2 linked regions of the Homo sapiens genome follow. The protein of the gene in region 2 binds, or shares a complex with, the protein of the main gene of each other region. Each region holds a gene or a part of one and is shown on either strand. Other genes may lie near its edges. A codon is read from its position in the direction of its gene.

The links.
Region 1: the proteins of PLEKHM2 (region 2) and ARL8B are in contact, whole or in part, in a crystal structure (PDB 8JCA), measured with the Homo sapiens proteins. Residues at the interface, in NP_055979.2 of Homo sapiens: His70 (codon at 5,581), Phe71 (codon at 5,578), Thr72 (codon at 5,575), Arg73 (codon at 5,572), Arg74 (codon at 5,569), Glu75 (codon at 5,566), Glu103 (codon at 4,406), Ser105 (codon at 4,400), Glu107 (codon at 4,394), Ser108 (codon at 4,391), Tyr109 (codon at 4,388), Arg111 (codon at 4,382), Leu112 (codon at 4,379), Glu115 (codon at 4,370), Glu147 (codon at 3,729), Phe148 (codon at 3,726); in NP_060654.1 of Homo sapiens: Glu22, Thr52, Val53, Gly54, Phe55, Asn56, Met57, Lys68, Trp70, Arg77, Phe78, Arg84, Tyr85, Arg87, Gly88, Val89.

What each region holds. Positions count from the first base shown.
Region 1 is NC_000003.12:5,174,292-5,181,316, reverse strand, and holds the end of ARL8B (ADP-ribosylation factor-like protein 8B), read right to left. Parts: intron 6,974-7,025; coding exon 6,903-6,973; intron 2,654-6,902; coding exon 2,604-2,653; 3' UTR 406-2,603; downstream 1-405. UniProt on the Homo sapiens protein: Small GTPase which cycles between active GTP-bound and inactive GDP-bound states.
Region 2 is NC_000001.11:15,715,303-15,722,327, reverse strand, and holds part of PLEKHM2 (pleckstrin homology domain-containing family M member 2), read right to left. Parts: intron 6,092-7,025; coding exon 5,985-6,091; intron 5,622-5,984; coding exon 5,512-5,621; intron 4,436-5,511; coding exon 4,336-4,435; intron 3,791-4,335; coding exon 3,703-3,790; intron 2,595-3,702; coding exon 2,408-2,594; intron 1,992-2,407; exon of another isoform or gene 1,884-1,991; coding exon of another isoform or gene 1,841-1,883; intron 1,000-1,840; coding exon 940-999; intron 1-939. UniProt on the Homo sapiens protein: Plays a role in lysosomes movement and localization at the cell periphery acting as an effector of ARL8B.

The sequences.
Region 1 (7,025 bases), on a different chromosome or scaffold from region 2:
TAAGGGTTGGCTGTACAGAATTGTAGTATGCGTATGGAGAAAATGCTAACTGAACCTTTCTAAACAAATAAAAATATACACAATTATTTTTCCAATAGCTCAAGTATTGACTTATTTTATGGGCAGATGATACCAAACTAGCAAAAAGCTTTATGCTAAAAATGTGCCTTTGTGGGAAAACCAGCATGTTCGGTACTTAAAATATTTCCATTCTGAACTGAAGTCAGTGAATAGGCATGTCTTGCAACTTCATTTGCTTAGCAGGGTCTTGGTTTGATTTGTAAAAACTGGGACATAAAATGTTTTACTAGCACTTGCCACTTAAAGTCCTAAATTTGGTGTATTGTGACCGTTGACAAGTAGTAGCATTTCCCCCGCCCCCAAAAAATCACAATATCAATTCTGTGGATATTTTAAAAGTTTATTTCTATTTTAACTAGCCCACAGACCCCATTCTTTGAGGGCTGATCTGATTTCTGACAAATGGTCTATAGACCCTCCTCTCGGAAACTTCCAAAAAAGTCTGCACCTTCCATCATGATGCACATTTTAAGTTAAAATTGCCAATACAACCCTTAAAATGCAAGTTTATTGAATAAAGCTGAGAAGAGCAGTAAACAGACAAAAAATGCATCCACCTAAATAAAAAAATTCACATATTTACATAGTTCAGTAACTGTTAAAAGTTTTCACATGCAGAGGTTAATGCACAGGAAAATGTTGGTAATAGCGTCTGGATGTCTTGAAATGCGGAAAGCAATGTATAGACACACAAACACATTAAGGTTTAGCTATAGGTCAATTAACAAACCTATGCAGTCCCCACAGAGTCACACATTCTAGTTCCAATTCCTCCTTTTAGGCACAAGCAAGTTGCCACATTCTTTGTAATGGTTCACACTGACCATTAATGGTGTTGAACAACAGTAGCAAGTTTAAATATCCCTTCATTTACAGAACCATCCATCCCACCAGGGTAGTATGCAACATGCTTCAAAGAATAAGAAGAGAAATTTAAAAGCCCAGATTCTACTCATAAAAATATGAATGGAGAAAAGCAAGTAGTGTCTGTGCAACACAGTGCAGTATATTGTACAGAATATTTTTAAGGCCATGGCAGTCTATAAATTAAAACTGATATTCATTAAAAGAACTTACTGTTGACTACACTCTGAGTGCTCAACACATTTGGAAATGCAGTCTACATAAGTGCTGCTTAACAAAAGAAACAAAATCACACACAGTGTGAGGCAACACATAAGCAGGTGTACCATAGAGTTTTATCTACTACAGTGGTCTATATGAATAATAATTTACAAATGAACCAGTATTAATATGTCCCTTTATGTATACGGAAGTCGCTAAACTACAAAACATGTCCATTTGAAGTTTTTAGACATCTCTGTATCATAGAAGCAAACAAACAGCATCAGTTCCTCAGTTCTCTGTGTGACTGATTATTAAACAACCTGTAGACATTGAGCATGATTACATTAGATAAAGCAGGCAGGTCTAGAGTTGTCACAATAATCAAGATGTCTAATGGCACCAGTCAAAAGAGTGCCAAAGCTTACATCAGTAAGAGAGAAAAATAAAAATTTTTTATTTGTTTATAAGTATCTTTTGTGCTGAAAGTCAACTTTATGACTGGATATAAAAAGTCAGGAGTTAAGAGTGTCATGCAGCAGCACTGATTTAATGACTGGAGATAGAACAAACAGATGTTTGAACAAAGACTGACATTCTTAACAGGTTTTATTATATTGGGTGGAATGCTCTAAATTCATGAACGCTTTTGGAAAATCTTCAATTCTCAACCCCTTAAAAAAGTATCCTGAACCAGGAAGAAAAAACAAGAGACAGAAATAATGATCTGGACAGATACAAAACAGGATGCTTTAGTTCCTCCCATATCCCAACTGCCATCTGGTGATAGAGTTCTCAGAAAGCAGGATATCTTTAATATTCATCAGGCAGAATCTCACCAGTGCAAAGAACCAACATTGATCTGGTGCCTCCGCTCACTCTCTGCAGACCATTTTGGATTCCTAAGATGTAATTATACATTTCACATGCATTTGTGAGATAAAATAAACATTATGTTTACATATATCCCACATGAGTCATTCACGCCTAAAGGTTTTCTAAATACTGTGTGTGGCACTAGAAACTTCATGCTGTATCAAGTCAGTGTCAGTATTAAGCTACTGGACTCTATAATGAAATATTATAGATAGACATTTACTGAAAACCAATATAAAAATCTGGCCCAGAAAGACCAGAATGGAAATATGCAATTTTCTTGATTTAAGATGGTCATAAGTATATGGGGTTTTTTTTCTGTTTTTAAAGCTCTACACATGGTTTAAGACAGGTATGTGTAAGAAGCCTTTTTGTGTGTGCTGACTTTATCATGACAACTCTAGCTGATTCTTTATGAAGGATTAGGGATATTCATCTTCAGCAGTGCACATGAGAAATAAACTCTGAAAAAGGCAATTTCTGGGGTTTAGGAAGGACCGTATTCTGGGAATTACTTCAGAGGAACGGACAATAATTCTAGGATTATAGCCAAGAAGGACTGGAAGACTTCAGGAGATGCTTCAGCTTCTTCTAGATTTTGAATGCTGAATAAGCCACTGAAGTGTGATATCTAAAGATAGAGGGGAAAAGTGAAGACATTAAAGTTAAAAAACTAAACATCAAACAGAGACAATATTTAAAAGGCAGCTAATTCAAGGCACACACTATGCCTGACCTCTGCTGCTTTTCTGCATCTGCATTACCATACTCCATTACCCGAACTTCAAGAGAATATGAGGAATTATCAGAGACTGAAGCGTTTTCTGATTTAAAAATTAAGTTGTGTATAGGACGGCTGGTGCCACCTTTTATGTGTTGCCCACACAATCAATCAGGTGTTGCATGCAAATTGCCAGGAAGGCAAAAAAAAAAAAAAAAAAAAAGGAATAACCCCTGTTTGCCCTCAAGGCGCTTTTAAGTATAATACACAGAAAAGATGCAGTAATTCCCGGGGCTTGGGGGCCACCCCACAGAACTCCAGGTTAAAAAAAAAAAACAGCAAAAGAATGTTAAAAGGCATGAAACATTGTGGAGCTCTGGATGGATTGTGAGTGATACAATGTGACTAAAGCACAGGGATGGGAGAGGAGGCTGTCACTGCCAAGGCTGGTGCAGGGTTCACACCATGCCCTTTTGACATCTGGGGCTGGGTAATTCTTGTCCTCACTTCTTCAGAAGGGTACATGAGAGTCTATCAGAAGCACCACTCTATTCTCCAAGCCTGAAAGATGAGGGTAAATTCACTACCAGTTTCCCAGCTAACATGCATTAACGAAACACCACAGGGCTGAGCTATAACAAACATGAACTGTTCACCATTGTGGAAGCAATGATTTAACCCAACTACTGAAGAAGCACCTCTGCACCTTAAAATGGGGACAACAGTGCACAATACGAGCAAAGCCACACTCATTGGAACTGAATGGGAGAAAGGTAAATCTGAAGTGAAATAACCAAATTTAAATATTTAAGAAATTCATGGCCGGGCACGGTGGCTCACACCTGTAATCCCACACTTTGGGAGGCCGAGGCAGGTGATCACCTGAGGTCAGCAGTTTGAGACCAGCCTGGCCAACATGGTGAAACCCCATCTCTACTAAAAATACAAAAATTAGCCGAGCACGGCAGCGGGCGCCTGTAATCCCAGCTACTCGGGAGGCTGAGGCAGGAGATCACTTGAACCCAGGAGGCGGAGGTTGCAGTGAGCCAAAATTGCGCCACTGCACTCCAGCTGGGCCACAAGAGTGAAACTCCATCTCAAAAAAAAAAAAAAAGAAATTCACTAAAAAATTACACAAAGCCTCTGTGGATACTGATAGAAGTTCATATCCTAAAGACAAATGGATCTTTATGAATAGGCAAAAAGACAACAGAAATAAGATACTCAGATGAACTGATCTACAAAATACTTATTTCGAATTTTATTAGAGTGGATCTTATTAGACTGGATCAGATTCCTTGGGCTTGACAACCTTTTAAGTGAGCCAGGAGTTCTAAAATTACTACTGAGCTATTTAGCCAACTATAAAGATCAGCCTCAAATAGCGAAAGAAGTCCTCACAGCTCTACTGCACTTCCATATATGAGCCCAAGAGATTTTGTTTTTTTTTCAGGAAGTATCCAACTAGTTTGTAACAATGGAAAAACAGAAAACATGTAGGGAGTAATGGATTTACAAAATAGCACAATGGACTAAAAATTACGGTTAGTGTAGAACAGGATTTCTCAACCTTGCCACAACTGACATTTTATGCTGGATAATTCTTTGCTGTGGAGGTTATAGTATGTTTAGCTACATTTCTGGTATCTACCCACTAAATGCCAGCATCACCCTCCTAGTTATGACAACCAAAAATGTCTCCAGACATTGTCAAGTCTCCTGGGGGAAAAGCTCCCCATTGAGAACCACTGATGTAGAAATAAATGCTCTCATGGGGCATATCTTAAATTTTAAAAAGAGTTTTCCCCGCCACATAGAGAAAAAACTTTTAAATAAAGTCTAAGTAACCACAAGTGCTTGAGGAGTCTGTTCTCAAATAAATGCTCCCAATGTAACAAGTGAATTATTCTATCCATTTATAAAGGAAAATTTGTGTCTATCCGCTGTTACTAAGGCTGAGACTGCCCTGGATGGTCTTTAAAGGAAGCCCAAAATTAGCCAGAACGACTATCCACACTTTAAACTGAATAAAGCATATTTGTGGCTGGGCGTGGTGGCTCATGCCTGTCAATCTAAGCACTTTGGGAGGCTGAGGCAGGTGCATCACCTGAGGTCAGGAGTTCAAGACCAGCATGGCCAACATGATGAAACCCTGTCTCTACTAAAAATACAAAAATTAGCCAGGCGTGGTAGTGGGCAACTGTAATCCCAGCTACTCAGGAGGCTGAGGCACAAGAATCACTTGAACCCGGGAAGTGGAGGTTGCTGTGAGCTAAGATCTTGCCACTGCACTCCAGCCACGGCGACAGAGTGAGACTCCATCTTAAAAAAATAAAAATAAATAAAGCCATGTTTGCAGGCGGGGTGGAAGGTGAGTTAGGGAAGGATAGACTGGAATACAAAAGCTAAAGAAAAAATATCAGCATAAACTTTATAGATATACTATTCTGGTACTATTTATTACATTTTGTTCCAATACATTCATTTATCAAATCATCTCAAACCAAATTAGTTAAGAAACTAAAGTTGAGCCATACATACTTATTCTGTAACCATACTATGCTAGAATGTTTAATGTCCCCCTAAAAAGTCATGTCCATCCAGAACCTCAGAATGTGACTTTTACTGGAAATAGGGTCTCTGCAAGTTATTAGTTAAGATAAGGTCATACTGGATTAGGTGGGCCCTACCTAATCCAGTGACTTGCGTCCTTAGGAAAACATAATACACTGACACAGAGACAACTACAGGGGAGAAGCATGAATGTGAGGCAGAGACTGGAGTGGTATATCTACAAGTGAAGGAATGCCAAGGATTGCTGGCAACCACCACAAGCTAGAGAGAGGCAAGGAGGGATCTTCTACAGCCTTCAGAGAGAACACGACCCTGCTGACAACTTGATTTTGGACTTCCAGCCTCTAGAATTTTGAATGACTTAAGTTTCTGCTGTTCTAAGCCACCTTGTTTGTGGTACTTTGTTATGGCAGTTCTAAGAAGTTAATATGGGCATTGAGTAAATGAAGGGTATTTTGGGCATATAATTCCAATAGAGTGCTAACATATTGCAGTAATATACTGGTTCAATAACTGAAAAATTGTTGTAGTGCCTGTAGACTAATTTTTGTAAAGTCTTATTTCAAAAATGCCATTTTGTTATAAAGCACAGCGGGATACTAGCTCTGCAAAAATTAACACAATAAATTGGTATCACATAATCTTAACCTCACGACTTTATTGCATTTTCTTCTTTAAATAGCACAAAGAAGATTCAGGATGTTATACATTCAGTCCTCACTTAACATCACTGATAGGTTCTTGGAAACTGCCACTTTAAGTGAAATGGTGTATAACAAAACTATTTTTTTCTCATTAACATTGTAACGCTGAACGAAATGAGGGCCTACTGTATGTCATTTCGCTTAAAAGTGCAATTTCCTCTTTTTAAAAAATTTTTTGCTGTTCAAGAGTTTGATAACATATAGGCCGGGCTCACACCTGTAATCCCAACACTTTGGGGGGCCGAGGCAGTTGGATCATTTGAGGTCAGGAGTTCAAGACCAGCTTGGGCAACATGGAAACCCTGTCGCTACTGAAAATACAAAAATTAGCCGGGCGTGGTGGTGCACGTCTGTAGTCCCAGCTACTCAGGAGGCTGAGGCACAAGAATCGCTTTAACCCAGGAGGCAGAGGTTGCAGTAAGTCGAGATCACGCCACTGCACTCAAGCCTGGGTGAAGGAGTGACACTGTCTCAAAAAATACATATACATATAATATTATTTATATATATATATTTATGTTATATATAATATATATTTATATATATTATATATTACATATATATTACATATAATATATAATACATATTACATATATATTACATATAATATATAATACATATTACATATATTATATTATATATATATTTGTATGAGAGAGAGAGAGATAACATTGCAATTTCAAAGAAGCCATCAATGATGTTAAGTGAAGGTTCACTATATTTGTTGTCAAAAGGTATGTCTATTCTTTTTTCTCAGGCAAAAGCAACAGTATTCTGAAAAGGAAGTCACTTAATGAGAAATCGAGACAATAAGCTGTAAGAAGCATAGACATTCCTTCCAATGATACCCATTTCTTCCAAAATTACCAGTCATTTCTTACCTATATTATCCTTTTCTTTGCAAGAAATTGAATAGCAGCAAATTTCTCTATCCTGAATAGCAGACAGATTCCTATGAGAAGAATTAAAAGGATAAGTCTGTGCTTAGAACAGCTGTCATACTT
Region 2 (7,025 bases):
TACTAAAAATACAAAAATTAGCCGGGCGTGGTGGCACACACCTGTAATCCCAGCTACTTGGGAGGCTGAGGCAGGAGAATTGCTTGAACCCGGGAGGTGGAGGTTACAGTAAGCCAAGATCACACCACTGCACTCCAGCCTGAGCAACAGAGCGAGACTCCGTCTCAAAAAGTAAAATAAAATAACATAAAGTAAAATAACAGGGATCTGCTATGGCCTCAGATTTAAGGGGGAAACATTCACCTTATTGGCAACATAGCCTTTGCTTTGAGTAATCGTGGCAACCTGGGAATAGCTTTGTGAATTTATGAAGTGGAATTTCAGGCAGAAAAATGCCCAGGCACTGCTACTGCCCAGCAGACAGGGTGGGAGGGCTGGCAGATTTCCTTTTAATCTGCTTTAAAGCTTCAAAGAGATTCTGTCTGTAGGAAGTTTCAGCTGTACCTGGGCAGTTTCCTGACTTGGACCTCAACCACTCCAAAACACCCAAGAGGAAGCCATTAGGAACAGACTGAAAGAATCAAGCTCTTTCTCTTCGATGCTCATCTGACCCGCAGGAGCTTACAACCCGCATGTTTAAAGGCATGGTTTTCCAGAACAAGTCTTGGTTCACTGGGTCAGGCCCTACACACCCCGAGAGCATCAGCTGGCACTGGAATCAGGAAGGGTGACCCTGTATCCCCCGAAATGCAGCCACTTAGTGACTCCGAAAGGCCACTGAGCAAAGGCAGGAGCCCTGCACTGGGAGAAGGGATTTGCCTATGGCTAGAGGTTGAGTTTTCCCACTGCAGAATTCCATCTATTAGAACACCAAACTTGGCTTTATTATGATTATGGATATTATTATAAATAATAAGGAGCTGATTTGATACATGCAGCAAGCTTGGCATGGAAACATTGCAAAACAGGAAAAGAGGGTAACAGCGGACTCTGGCCCACCTTCCCAGTCTGTGCTGGGTACAGACGGCACTGCTGGAAACACATCTCCAAAATCATAATCTACAAAAACGAGGGACAAAACTGAAGATTAGAAACACAGGCAGTGGAAGGATGACTGGAGGGAGGGGAGGGGAAATGGGGTGGGAGACATGGGGAGAAAATAGGAGAGGAAAACTTCAACTTTCTACATTGTATCCAACAACCTTGGGGAAACTTACTAGGGCCCTGACTGCCTCTCAGCTCAGGCGCTGGCCCAGGAGCCTCCAACCAGCTGGAAAGACCTGTCAGGGTGACCCCTTTCCACATCCAGAAGCTGGTTCTGGCAGAGAGAAGCCTGGCTGCCTGTGCCTAGCTTTGTTTTCTACCTCTTACGTGCCTTCCCTCCATACCCTAGCAGGGCAAGGAGACACTGCCCTGGCAGCTGCAGTTGCACAATCTCCAAATTGCTGAGGGGACACCTCCATCCATGGATCCATCCTTGCCCTGGCTCTTCCGGCAAGGCCCACCCCTCCAACTCCTCTAAGGTGGCCCATGGGCCCAACCTAAGGAGACTGTGCCGCCTTCTTCAGCTTGCACGGTCAGCAATGCAGGTCTTGCTAACAGCAAGTTTGAGAGGGACCTCCCTTCCTGGGACATATAACCCGTGGTACAGCAGAAATAAAGAAAGGGGAAGGTCAAGGTCTCAATGCTGAGGCAATTCTAGGGTGCCCCAGGGCTAAATTGGGGCTGGGATCCCCTTCCCTGGAGGTGAGGTGGTGGGGTGAAGTAAATGAAGGGCTCTGGTCTCCTACAGGAGATAAAGAGGGGAAAATGGCCAGTTTTATCCATGAACACCAGGGCCTAAGGTTTGAAAGAAACCAGGCTGTTCCAGTAAATCATTGGGTCAAGACAACAAAATGACCTGCAGCTTCTTCCTCGGTCCCTGATGCAAAGGGTGCGACCATCCCAAACACATCAGCGAGCGCAGAAGGAACTCAGAGAAATCGGACGGACACACAGGACACAGTGGCAAGGTTTCCCTGCGCTTCAGACCTGCCTGGTTCTCTCTTCTTCTAGGGGTTGCTTAACCTCCTTCTGCAAAGAATGTGGGGTCAGACAAGCTCCCCAGAACAGGCAACACTCAACCCTGCGACAAGGTTTCCAGGTCCCACTGCTAAACCTTCCTTGCTTAGAAAACTGCCACAGGCATGTGACTAGAACCTTCTGGAAAAGGGTCTAACCTTAAAAAATATATATTTTATATATATATATATATATATAATTTCAGCTTTTTGTGCCCAGAATCCACTTTTTAGCCACCACAGGGACTCTGAGGAGATGAAGATCTGGGAAATGGCCAGCCCTGTTTAATTGCAAATTTCAGCCACCAGACCAAAACTAGCCAAGGAAGACATCACCCAGCCAGGCTTAAGCAGTTCAAGTCTGTTTCACAACAGGGGCTTAGCTTTTCTGCCCTGGGGCCACTCACCCTCACTAGATGGGGCAATCGCACTGTCATCCCACTCCAGGTTGGTGGAGGTGACGGAGTTGAAAGAGTTGAGGGACAGACTGTCTGAGCCGTGGACCGAGCTGGGAAGGCGGTCTTCAAAGTCCAGCAGGTACTGAGGTTTGTAGTAGTCGGGCATGTAGGGGGCCAGGTCTAGGTAAGGGGCATCCTGAGGAGAGAGTAGAGGAGGCCCGTTTGGTGGGAGGCCTCGTGCAGCGGCCTTCTGCAGACAGCAGGATCCAGGCCTGGGAGACACAGATGTGCCTCTTTGGGAAATCAATGGCTTAAGGTAGTAAATTCAAAGAAAAGCTGCTAAGAAGAGCAATGTGAATAGTGTTGGCTTTTAAAGCTGTGGACTTCAGGCTGATGGAAGACAGAGCTGTCAGAACTCAGCTACACCCTTTGATGCCCCCGCTATCTCTCTCTCTCTCTATTTATTTATTTTTTTTTTTGAGACAGAGTCTCACTCTGTTGCCCTGGCTGGAGTGCAATGACGTGGCTCGGCTCACTGCAACTTCCACCTCCCGGGTTCGAGCGATTCTCCTGCCTCAGCCTCCCAAGTAGCTGAGATTATAGGCGCCCATCACCACACCCCGCTAACTTTTGTATTTTTTTAGTAGAGACGAGGTTTCGCCATGTTGGCCAGGCTGGTCTCGAACTCCTGACCTCAGGTGATCCACCCACCTCAGCCTCCCAAAGTGCTGGGATTATAGGTGTGAGCCACTGCGCCTGGCCCAAGGAAGGTCATTTGATTAGGACGGGGCAGCTGCATCCATTTTGAGCCCAGTCCAAGAGGTGCCTGGGAGCCTCTTTGGCTCTATGTGGGCCAGCATCCCATTTGTACAGGGTGTGATGGGGAGAGAAACTTGAGAACTTGAAGAGGGTGGCTGAAGGCTCTTCATGGAGCTGATGACACTTTTCAGAACCCCAGAAGCACCAGGCTGAAACTGCCTTGTCCTTCTAACTCTTCACATCCTAAACATGAAGGCCAGTTCTTCTGGGCTAAGATACTCCAGGCAATGTGGCTTTTCTCCAAGTTGGATAGGGAGATAGGAAAAAGTCACCTGAACCAGGAATTCTTGCCATCACTTCTCTTCTCACTCAATTCGATGGACCCTGAAACCTTTCCCTCGCCCAAAAAAACAAGTTTTGCTCAAGCCCAGTCATACTCAACAAGCTCCCTCAACAAGACCTGAGAAATGAAGCCACCGCCCACCCTGCCCCCACCCTGCCCCCTCCTCTGCTTCCCACAAGCAGTGAGAGCCCTGGTGTCTCACCAGATCCAGCTCGAAACGAATGAACTCTAGCCCGGACACCAAGGTCAGGAAGAGCGTCAGGTGATCGTGGCTGCAGACCAGGGCATTCCTGCAAGACATGAGAAGCCACGATGGTGCCTCTGGGTCTGTTTACCAGCCTGGCCTAACCTTACCAACATACCAGCTGTGTTGAAATCTGACACGTGATGTCCTCCACCTTGGACGGCACCCAGCTTGATATAGCTGTTGCCCACCACCCTCTCAGCGATCTCCTACTGGGTTAGCAGCCACACTGCACTGTCCTGCCAGTGTCTTCAGAGATGGACGAGCACAAGGCTTGTCAGGCTCTCAGCAGCTGCTGTACACACTCTGTTCCTGCAGCAACCCCAGCAAAGGCTGAGCCAAAGCATGGGCACTGGTCAGGTCTGAAGCCTGGGAGGAGGACCAGGGAGCAGCAGAGACCCAGACTGTACCCAGGAGCCCAGATGGGACACCGGTGCTCCTGGTGAAGGCTACCCAGCTACTGGCAAGGTTCTAATGGCTCTCTGGCATCACTGATGTGGCACACTGTGCTGTCTGCATGACAAGAGCCTTTGGGAGGTAGCTGAAAGGGAGCTCTGAGGCTAGGGGAGACAGACCGTCCCAGACACTCACTTGACGTAGTACTTATGCAGCAGGCCCAGGTTCTCCTGGAACAACCGCAGGTAGCTCTCCAAGGAGTTCTCGTTGAGGGCCAGGTACAGCCAGGCACGGCCTGCAAACAAAGGCAGGAGTAACCGGCAGGAAGGCCTCTCAGACTGCTGGCTTTTATTTGCCAAGCAAGCGCAGAAAGGAAAGAAAGAGCAGGTAATGGGACCAGGCACTTCAGTGGCCTTTGTGCTTGGTGGGGTACCATAACCCCTGAGTGCTTTATTTTCCTAGTCAGACCTCAGCATGTAGCTGGCCAGGAAATTCTGATAAAGAGGGCAGACTGCACACTTCAGACAGGTCAAGAAACGCCAGGACTCTGCACTGATCCTGTAGGCTAACAGTGATCCCAGCTCAGGGAGAGAAACCAGACTCCATAGCACGTGCTCAGGCTGGGATTCCATAAGAGTCCAGCTCTCGCTGGCAGCTCGCCCTCTTTCTCCCCATCACTGCTGTGCCAAAAAACCATCATATGTGGGGAGAAAAGAGGCCTCATGGAGGGGGCTGGCATTTTATAAATTTATTATTTATTACTATTATTTTATTTTTTGAGACAGAGACTCTGTCACCCAGGCTGGAGTATAGTGGTGTGATCACAGCTCAATACAGCCTTAAATTCCTGGGCTCAAGGGATCCTCCTGCCTTACCCTCCCAAAGTGTTGGAATTACAGGCATGAGCCACTGTGCCCGGCCATTTTCCTAAATCTTTAGAGATGGGGTCTCACTCTTTCTTCCAGGCTGGAGTGCAATGCTGTGGTCATGCCTCACTGCAGCCTCAAACTCCGGGGCTCAAGCCATCCTCCCACCTCAGCCCCTGAGTAGCTGGGACTATAGGTGTGTACCAAGACATCCATGTAATATTTAAATTTTTGTAGAGATGGGGTCTCACTGTGTTGCCCAGGCTGGTCTAAACTCCTGGCCTCAAGCCATCCTCCCTCCTCAGCCTCCCAAAATGCTGGGATTACAGGTGTGAGCCACCATGCCTGGCCTGGTGCTGGCATTTTAACACCCCACTGCTACTGGACACCACCAGGTAATTTGCCTCCCAGGGCTGACCCTGAGGGTAAACCTGGGACAGAGCCCCAAGCTACCCACCGAAGGTGGAGCTGGTCCCTTCCCCAGCGTCTCCTTGTGACTACTCACTGCGCCCCAGGTTGGTGGCCACGTGCTGCAGCACCTCGATCTGCTTGATGGCCTCTCTCCGAGTAAAATGCACCACGAGCACCCAGTAGCCAGAGGAGAGGTCTTGCAGTCTGAGAAAACAGGACAGGAGCTGCTGTGACCTGCATGGGGCCACCCTGGGAAGCTGCAGTCGGCTGGTCCAGCAGTGAGCGCAAGGCAGGAAGTGATGGATCCCCAGCAGGTCTCCCAGGCACCCAGCACACCTTCACACCATCATATCATTTGTGGCAAATCCTCCCTCCATCATTTATGTCTGCCCAGAGATGATTTACTGGGGTAACTACAGAGAGACTGTGGCCCACTTGAGTGGGACAAATCCCTTTCTGCCAAGGGGAGAGAAGAAAGAAAAGGCAGAGAGGCTAAGGGTTTCTCTGTGGAGGCTACTCATGGCCTGGGTTGTGCTCCGTCATCTTTGGAAACTTCCTCCACCTTACCCGTACAGCAGGGCGTGGTCCAGGTGCTCACACAGACGCTGTAGGACCTTGTCATGGTTCCGGATGGCAGGGATCTCATCCTCACATGCAGCAAAATAGCTCTGCAACTGAAAGAAAAAAAAACACCTCCAAATCAGAAATGGATTAAGAGGAAGGCTACAAAAGTTCTGGAATCAAGAAGGTAGCTAAAAAAAATTAGTCAAATGGTGTATCCACAATGACCAGCAGAGACGTCTACCTCAAACCACCCCTGTCCCAGCTGCTGCTCTGGCACTGGAGGTTCCAGCAGGCAACAGCTGTATCTTTACAGCCCAGTCCCCCAGAGGCACCCAGTCAGCAGTCCGCACAGTGACAACTTGAGGCTGGAGGGATCCACTGTCCATGCATAGGTCTCAAGTGGTGGCAAGCTTCAGGCCAGGGCCACAGCATGGCACAACTTCAGGGGCACTATGTACAGTGCTGTCTAGACCAATGCCACACAAACCCAGAGTTGGGGCATTGATACAGAGAGCGCTAGACGTATTTTCCTCCCATTGTCAACAGACCTTTAAACTTTGCTTATGTTATTGTTTTGCCCTATTGAGAAAGTTTTAATTTTTAGGCAGTCAAATCTGTCCATCTTTTCCTTTATAGTTTCCCATTTTTCCCAGTCATATATTAGAAAAGTATCTTTTTTCTTTTCTTTTTGGTTGTTTGTTTTATTGAGACAAAGTCTTGTTCTGTCGCCCAGGCTGGAGGGCAGTGGCATGATCTCGGCTCACTGCAGCCTCCGCCTCCTGGGTTCAAGTGATTCTCCTGCCTCAGCCTCCCGAGTAGCTGGGATTACAGGTGCCCACCACCATGCCCAGCTAATTTTTTATCTTTAGTAGAGACGAGGTTTCGCCATGTTGGCCAGGCTGGTCTCAAGCTCCTGACCTCAGGTGATCCACCCACTTTGGCCTCCCAAAGTGCTGCGATTACAGGCGTGAGCCACTGTGCCCGGCCTGTTTGTTTTGAGACAGGGTCTCACTCTGTCATGCAGGCTGGAGTGCAGTGGTGTGA